Linked DNA regions of Homo sapiens: region 1 is linked to region 2. Evidence: fine-mapped expression QTL. A gene starts in region 2. The other region holds a variant in brackets. All regions are shown on one strand. Distances are from middle to middle.

Region 1 (4,382 bases), 62 kb before region 2:
TTTGGGGGTGTTCAGAGAGGCCCACAGGAGCCTTGGGTCTGTGCTGGGCAGGGCTGTGGCCTCCTGCAAGGCAGGGGACTCATGCCTGCTCTGTGTGCCCTCCTCCCAGCCTGCTGTCTGGAATACAGCAAGTGCTTGACACGCAGGGCGTTGAGGCCTGCCTGGGAGTGGGCAGCCAGGTAGGCATGGGGGACACGCTATGGCTCAGCTAGTAGTGAGGTCATGAGACCCTCCAGTGGGGCTGCCCCAGGAGCTGGCTCTGATCCCAGGTTGGGCTGCCTGCCCTCCTCATGCTCCACAGACCCTGTGTGCCACTTCCATGGGGCCTGTTCCTCACTGTAATGCCAAGAGATGGTGGAAGGTACAGGGTCGAAACCATGGGCTGCGGAGTCCATGTCTTGGCTGCATTACTTCCTAGGACTGTGTCCTTGGGCAAGTTACTTAACATCACCATCACTCAGCCTTAATCTTCCCATTCCAGAAATGGGACGGTAATGGTGCCAATCTCACGGGGACGTTGTGCAGACCCGGGGAGATAACACATGGCAACCGTTAGCCTGGGCCTGACACAGAGCTAGTGCTCAGGTAGTAACACTGGTGCTGGCCCCGTGTCTGCCCACCACTGGGCTGTGGGCACCCTGATGACTAGGCCTGTATCTTTTGCATCATAGCATCTCCAGGCCTAGCACAGGGCCTGCGACAGAGCAGCTGTGCAGTGCTGTTCCCTGAACTGAATGAACCGGGGAGAGGGACAACCCATGGAGTGCCCTGTCCTCACCACTGTCCTCTGTAGGCTGGTGCCCTGGTGCTCTCTGTGCCCATGGTAGAAATCTCACTTTCAGCGTGGGAAGGGGCCAGGAGGCCCTCTGGTACAGCCTTTGGTTCACACATGAGGAAACCAAGATGCAAAGAGGGAAAGTGACTTAGAAACATAGCCACCACATCTTCCTGAAGAGGTGCCCCATAGTGAGGCTGGACCCTGAGGCTTGGGGTATGGGGATCTGTGGGGAGGGGCTGCTCTCCAGCAGAACATGGCTTCTGTCCAGGACCCGGCTCGGGGAGCAGGGCCCAGATTCTACTGACTGCAACTCCACAGCCCTCTGGCCTGAGCAGCCCAGAGGGCTCTGCAATTCAGATGGCTAAGAAGGGCTCCAGTCGCTCTGCAACAGGACACAAACTCCCTAGAGGGCTTGGAGGAATTTCAAAATGACACCTAGGCCCTCTATTCCTAAAGGGCTCCCCAAAGGGACCTGCATGCTCACTCCTTGGCCTGCCCTAGGTTGTATCCCCCAGGACTGCTGGGGTGGGGTGAGAGGGTCGAAGGCAGAGGGAGAAGGGGAGAAGAGCTGGCAGGAGGACCGTCTTGCTGTGCGACTTGTGACAGGTGCTGGGGAAGGGGCCAGCAGGGAGAACAGGAAGCTGGAGGGTAGGCCTCGTTTGCTCATTCACTTGTGCCTTCATTCCTATGTTCCTTCCCTGCTGAGCAGTTCCTAGGTGCCCAAGACTGTGCAAGGTGCAGGGCGGCAAAGATGGGCAAGGACAGGACAGTTCCCAGGGCACAGCTCCAGGAGCGCTGGCTCTTCACGTGGGCTATGCAGCACCCTGGAGGTGTCCCGAGCACCACCTGCTCAACTCCACACAGCCCTGAGAACAACATGGTCCATGCTGTTGAGCGGAACAGCTCCCACTCCCAGACAGCACAGAGGAGGCAACAGGCAATGGGTAAAAGCACGTGCCTCGGCTGCGACCTGAAGTATGAGCAGAAGTCTTCCAGATGCAGCAGATGGGGTCGGGGACAGGTGAGGAG[A/T]ATCCCCAGGAGAGGAAACAAAGCCACACAAAAGCCCAGAGGTGAGGGTGGCTTGAGATTCGGGACAGCAAATAGGAACGGCTGGAACCCCCATGGGGCTGGGACTGTGGCAGGGAGCCTGGAGAGGCCTCTGTCCTGCACACCGTGAGGAGCCATCAGAGGCTTTCCCGAGGATCAGCGCGGTCAGAGGTGCACTTTAGGAAGATGATTCAGCTGCAATGTGGAGGTGAGGTTGGAAGGGACAGAGCTCAAAGAAGGGGAAGCACAGGAGGTCTCCCGGCGTGCAGGCAAGAGGAAGGATGGCCTGGCCTCCTGGGGCAGGGGCACTGGGGAAGGCAAGAGAGGGTGGGATTCGGGAACTGTTAAGAGGCAGCATCAGTGGGGCTTGGGGCTAGAGCAGAGGCGAAGGAAGGAGAACAGCCAAGGAAAACCGTCCTGGGGATCTGGACTGGCTGACAGAGGAGGCTTGGCGGGTCGGTGGGCTGGGGAGCTAAGATTGTCCAACACCCCTCCCAGGCCATGGAACACGGGATTCAGTGTGGCTGGCGGAATCACTGGGTTGGAATATCAAGTGTTAGATCTCAAAGAGACCTAAGGCAGAGTCAGTTCCTGGCGCCATGCTGTATACCCATCCCATCCCCCTTTATGTCACTAAGTGATCATTTCCCGTCTCTTATCCTTCCAGCAGCTTCTTCGCCAGGCACTGCATTAAGCACTGAGAATATAATGAGGAACAAGTCATGCACCTGCCTTCAAGGAGGGGGTCAAGCAAACAGGAAATGCTGACACAGGGCTGAAGGGCTGTGACGGGGACACCCGGGCCCTGTGGGATGACTGAGAGGGACACCCAGTGCAGGCTTGGGAGGCAGGGAAAACTGCCTGAGAGGAGGAAGAGGTACCTAAAGCAAGTACTAAAGCAAGAGAAGGCCAAGTGCAGGGGTGTGGAGGGGAGCGGAAACTTCAGAGATTGAGGCCAAGGGAAGAGCCTGTGAAGTCCCAGACATAGGAGGCAGCTGAGGCCAGAGAAGTCAAGCAACTTGCCCAAGGCCATACAGCTCATGGCAGAAGAGAGAGGAGTCGAGTTCAGTCTCCTATAGATGTGTGCCATGTTCAACAAAAGCCAAAGTTGACAAATGGGATCTAATTAAACTAAAGAGCTCCTGCACAGCAAAAGAAACTACCATCAGAGTGAACAGGCAACCTACAAAATGGGAGAAAATTTTCGCAACCTACTCATCTGACAAAGGGCTAATATCCAGAATCTACAATGAACTCAAACAAATTTACAAGAAAAAAACAAACAACCCCATCAAAAAGTGGGCAAAGGACATGAACAGACACTTCTCAAAAAGTGGGCGAAGGGCCTGAATGTCTTATGCTAGTGCTGTGGGGTTTTCGAAGCTGGGAGCAGAATTTTAGATTTTTCCACATTTCATCCGACTTTTTTTTTTTCATTAAAACCATCCTTCTGTCCTGATGAGGTGTTTTTTGTTTTGTTTTGTTTTGTTTTGAGACAGAGTCTCACTCTGTCGCCCAGGCTGGAGTGCTGTGGTGCAATCTTGGCTCACTGCAACCTCCGCCTCCCGCATTCAAGGAATTCTGCCTCAGCCTCCTGAGTAGCTGGGATTACAGGCATGCGCCACCACGCCTGGCTAATTTTTGTATTTTTAGTACAGACAGGGTTTCACCATATTGGGCGGGCTGGTCTCAAACTCCTGGCCTCGTGATCCACCCGCCTTGGCCTCCCAAAGTGCTGGGATTACAGGTATGAGCCACCACGCCTGGCCCCTGATGAGGTTTTTACAAAGTCTGGGATGCTATCACCAAGGTATCAGCTGTTCTCTTTCAGCTTTATGTCATCAGAAAGCCAGGTGAATGTAACTTGTATGCCTCAAATTGGTGCCTTATCAGTGACCTGGACAGCATGTCCACTCAACTCCCTGGGATTTTTTTTGATGAATATTTTTTGGATAATTCGGTTTGAGAACAACCCTCCTTACTATATTGTTAGTAATCCACACATTCCTGGCATGTGCACATAGGGTATCTTGGGGGATTTGGTCAAACACTTTACTGATGTGCTGCCTACAGCTGGCCTGAGCCAGGATATGAGCTTGGCATCAATGCCAAGAGAGGAAGGAGGTTAGTTTGGCTTGACTCAGTCTTAGTGGCCTTCCCACTAGCTTCCTTTCTGAAGATACCTTGCCTATTGGGTTGAAGAATTGTTCTCTAGAACCTACACATTTTGGGGCAGAAGGGACCTTGGAGGTGATTCAAAGTTAATTCTCATTTTTTTGCAGATGAGGAAACGAATGCCCAGAGGGTTTAACTGGCAACTCCCAAAGTCACTGAGTTCATAGGAGGAAGAGCGAGGACTGGATCCCATGTCTACATCTCCAAGTTCAAAGCTCTTTCCTTAACAGTATCACACCATCACACCTTTCTCTAAGCGCACACACACACACACACACACACACACACCTTCCATCAAGACTCTTGTCTGCCAAGACAAACTGAGGCATTATCTTTTTTGGGGGTTCAATGGGGGCCCCACAATTGGCCACTTTCTCTTCCT
Region 2 (4,382 bases):
CACCATTGTCAAGGTCAGGTGCTGACCAGGGACAATTTCCCTTGAACTGTTCTTTGTTTAGTTCTCCATCACTTGCCTAATCAGAGAAAAGAAGCAGACATGGCCACAGCCTTTCCAGTACAGAGGAGAGAACATCCCAGACACTTTCATATCTTCTTCCCATATTCCTAGTTCATGGACCTCCTGAGTGAAGAAAGAGCTTGAAGTTCTAGGAACTGAGAGGTTAACATTTCTCTCAGGACCCAAGGCAAGATTTCAGTGATCACCAGATAACCGGGAAAAAAGGGTTTGCAGTTGCTGGCCTTAACAGGGAGATTTAAACAGGCATGGCATCTGAATACCAACTCCATCTGCCAACTGTCCCCCATGTCATTGCTCCCTTTCAACAACGGCCAAACACCCTGTATGAAAAACCCTCCTTGAGTTGGAGGAAAAAGCTGTAACCAGACTGAGTCCTCAAGCCATGCCTGAGTCCTCCATTGGTTTGATGGGATGTTCCCTTGCACCTCTTCGGCTCTGCGGGAATTCAGAGGAAGGGTGTCCAATCAGGTCAGAGAAGAGAAAGCTTCCCTAAATGAGCCACTCCTAGCTGTGGCTCCCACTTCACCAGCTAAAGAGCCACATTTTCTCTTCCTCTGCCTCCAGCTCCCTTGGTTTCCCACATCACTCCTGCTTTTCAGGTTTGTCCCCGGCCTCCTGGATTCCCCTCTACCCCAGTCCTACTCTTCCTGGGCCCCAGCCTTTTTAAAGCTCTTCACATGCCTCTTTCCAAGCCTTCAGCTTTTCTCACATCTCAGTCTCCATGCAAATACTTTTACTACCCAAACTTCCTTCCAAATTTTTTCTCACTTAAAAAGATTCCTTCAATGGTTCTCTTTTCTACAGTTTAATCTTCACTCGAACTTCAACCCAGCCTAACCCCGTTTAAATGCTGTCAGTTCCCAGTATCACCAATCGCTTAACACCCACCTCCTTCCTCCTTTGCTCCTACTAATGGTCTGGTTACTCCTTTTTGCTCCAGCATTCCCCAAAACCTTCTCAAGCAGGGATATCGTTCCCTCATTTACCCAAAATCTCCTTTGCACACTTCTGGCGCCTTCAGGCCACATCACTCCGGTCCTTTAGACTCCTACGCACCCAACGTCCCCGTCTCTCCCTCACACCCACTTGCTTCCCTTGCTCCCACCACAACAGTGCCCATCTCCTCTCCCCGCTCACTCAGGTCTCCTGCTCAGGACGCCCTTGCCGAGGGCGGAGGGGGATTTGTGCTGAAGGAGGGCTCCGGCAGCAGCGCAGCAACTCGGGGGACGCTCCTTCTCCTTGTCAGTCACGGCCCCTTGTGTCCCCAGATGCTTGTGGGGCGACTGGGGTGTGTGAGCCCTGCTGCCAGGGCCCCGCTGGGGCTGCTCCAGGAGCTGTCCGTGGTGCTGACGCGGCGGCCGATCGGGCGCGGGATGCGGCGCGGCTGCTGAGCGCTGTCCCTGGTCCTGGAGAGGTTCCTGGGCCCTGGCGGCGGCGGCAGGAGCGGTGGCCGGAGCGGCCGGCAGCGGGGCCGATGACGGGGGGACGAGCCCGGGCGGAGGCTGGGCTTGCAGCAGCTGCTGGTGCTCCCACAGGCTGCGGTTCTCAGCGCTCAGCTCGTCCAGCCGCCGCTCCAGCTCGTCGATACGCTCTCGCTGGGTGTGGATGAGGCTCTGCTGGTTCTGCACGATGGCCGTGAGCTCCTTGAGGTAGAGCACGGCGCGCACCGGATTCTCCAGCAGGCTCTCCATGCCGCCCGCCGCCGCCTGCGCCCTGCCTGCGCCTGGGCTGGCGGCGGGGAGCGCGAGGGCGCGGGAGCCCAGCAGCCCAGCGGTCGGCTCGCCTCCCTCTCCCACCGGCCCAGCCTCCCTCCCCCCGCCGGCGCCGCGTCACTGCCACCCCGACCTTCACACACGCATCGCGGGGCGGGGCGGCTGCGCAAGGCCCCACCCCCACCCCACCCCCTACCTCCAGACCTCCCCAACTCCTCGCCTCCCCACCTCGCTGCCTCTTGGCGTCAGCGAAGGCTCTGCTGCCTGCAGGGCAGAGAGGAGAGGGAGGAGGCCAGCGAGAGGGAGCCTCTGTCGGGGCGTGGGAGGAAAGCAAGATAACGCAGGCGACCCGAGAAGGACGGTGAATCTGACTGGCCAGACTGGGAAGTAGGCGAAGGGGAAGCAGCGATACTGGGAAGGTGCGGTGGGACCTGTAGGAGAAGAGAAACAGAAAAGAAAGGAAGAGAAGGGGAGAGGCCAGCAGAGAGGAAGCAGAAAAAGGGAAGGTGGGGCCAAGAAAGAGAAATGTGCTGGAGGACAGGAAGGCGTGGGGCCCTGAAGGGACGCGAATTCTTTTTTCCCAGGTCCAGGCCTTCCAGAGGCTGGGGTTCATCTAGAGACCTGCTGAGGAGGGGCCACACTCGCCTCTTTTGCTCGCAGCAATCTATTCTGCCAGGGGATTCCCTGGAACACAAGAATCCTGGGGCTCTAAGGGACCCTAAAGAGCGTCTGGTCCTGCTCCTTCCTTCATCCGTGACGAAACTTGGGATGGGAAGGCTGTTCATGCTGGGTTTCCTCTGGGAGTGAGACCTCAAGACAACTGTGGCAGTTCCTGATAGAAACACTAAATAAACGAGGTCCTCTGTGGCAAGGGCTAACGCTTCCAGAAGCTTCTGAATAGATCATTCTATTTGACAAACAGTTATAAAATGCACACTATTACCAAACACTGTGCTAGATGGTGGTAAGAGAAGCATGACTAGAATGGAATGTTAGGCTTTTTGAAGCTTATAAATAAGTGGGTGAAATTGGTCATGATTAACTTTGACGTATGATAGTGGTGGTGAGTAATCAGGCAGAGGTTTGCCCAGAGTGCTATAGGAGCCAGCAGCTTGGAGATCCAGGGAGGCTTCTTACAGGAAGTGACCCTTGGTGTGGGAAGGGTTTTCCATAAAGGGAAGACAGCATGAGCAAAAGCTCAGAGACATTAATCAGCACCGATTGAATCATTCATTCATGTCTACAATAATCACCACTCACTAGGTGCAAAGTAATGTACAGAATCTATGCAAGCCACATCTAGCATAGATAATAAGTTATCATTTCTATAATCAAGTTGATTCCAATCTCATAGAGTAGATATGCCATGCACATGAATAAGTAAAACACAACTCAAGATTTCTGTAAGAGCTCTTCAAGCCAAGTGCCATAGAGTTCAGGGGAGGGAGAGGATTCATTTGACTGTGTTGATCTGATAAGTTCTGACAGAGGTGTTACTCAAGTTGGGCCACGAAGAATGGGAAATATTTCAACAGGTAGACAGAACAGGGGGCCAGATATGAGAAAGATACATCAGGCAGCAGGGAAAAAACTAATGAATGGAAATAGAGCACTTGGTTTAAATTAATTTGGCAGGGAAATATCCCTTTCCTTTTCTTTTCCTTTACTTTTTTTTTTTTTTAAAGTCTTGTCTGTCACCGAGGCTGGAGTGCAGTGGCAGGATCATAGCTTACTCCATCCTTGACCTCCTGGGATCAAGGAATCCTCTAGCCTCAGCTTCCTGAGTAGGTGGGACTACAGATGCATACCACCATGCCCCGTGAAGGAAATGAGTTGTTCTTTCCTCTTTTATAGGAATGGGATGGGAAGGAGGAAGGGCTATGAGTACGCTTCGCATGTTTGTTATTGTGTTGTTCCGTTCTTCACACACATGTCCATCAGGCTCCCTGTCAACCTTCCATTCCCCCAGGGTAGGCATATTTATGGGTACCATGTGCCCAGTGAGCTGGCCCACCCCCCACCACCACGTGGTGCCAGACTTGAATGACCTTATGAGAAGGAACTTGTGCTCTGCACATATATTGGTTTATCTGCATTCCTGATGTGTTTTTATTTTGCTTTTCTCCCATTTATCTTCCTAGCAAACTTTCTTTGGTAAAGAATGAATAAAGGAAGCTTATCCACAGCTGAGCTCACGGTTAGGGGAAACAGCACACAGGAGGATGCTTTGGTAGTGACCAGCATTCCAGCTAAAGAATGGAGGTTGGGGGATGAAACAAGGGCACACAAAAACTCAAACTCTTTTTTCTGAATTTTCTTTGTTTGCCTAGTTGATTTGCTGTCCAAGAATTGGGTGCTTGGACAGCAAATTAGAGACGAATACGATAAGTGAAACAGCCTGCAGCATAATTATCCATGCGGATTGTTGAAAATGCAGATTTCTGAGCCCTATATTGTAGCAGGACAAGCCGCAGACAAAATTCCTCAGACACCGAGTTAAAGAAGGAAGGGGTTTATTTGGCTGGGGGCATCGGCAAGACTCCTGTCTCAAGAGCTGAGCTCCCCGAGTGAGCAATTTCTGTCCTTTTT

Evidence for each region. PIP is the estimated chance that this variant, and not a neighbour inherited with it, causes the effect.
Region 1: its variant is the best candidate, but not a certain one, in a credible set for the expression of IQSEC3 in subcutaneous fat (FUSION, PIP 0.89).

What each region holds. Positions count from the first base shown.
Region 1 is chr12:126,451-130,832 of GRCh38, reverse strand. All of the region lies in intron 3 of IQSEC3 (IQ motif and Sec7 domain ArfGEF 3), which reads right to left. Among named protein-coding and RNA genes, the nearest start is that of IQSEC3-AS2, 17 kb to the right of the region's middle. The variant A/T (reference allele first, on the strand shown) is at 1,808.
Region 2 is chr12:64,273-68,654 of GRCh38, reverse strand. IQSEC3 (IQ motif and Sec7 domain ArfGEF 3) reads right to left here and starts at 1,888. Exons shown (of 14, transcript NM_001170738.2): 1 at 1,219-1,888. The coding sequence starts at 1,772.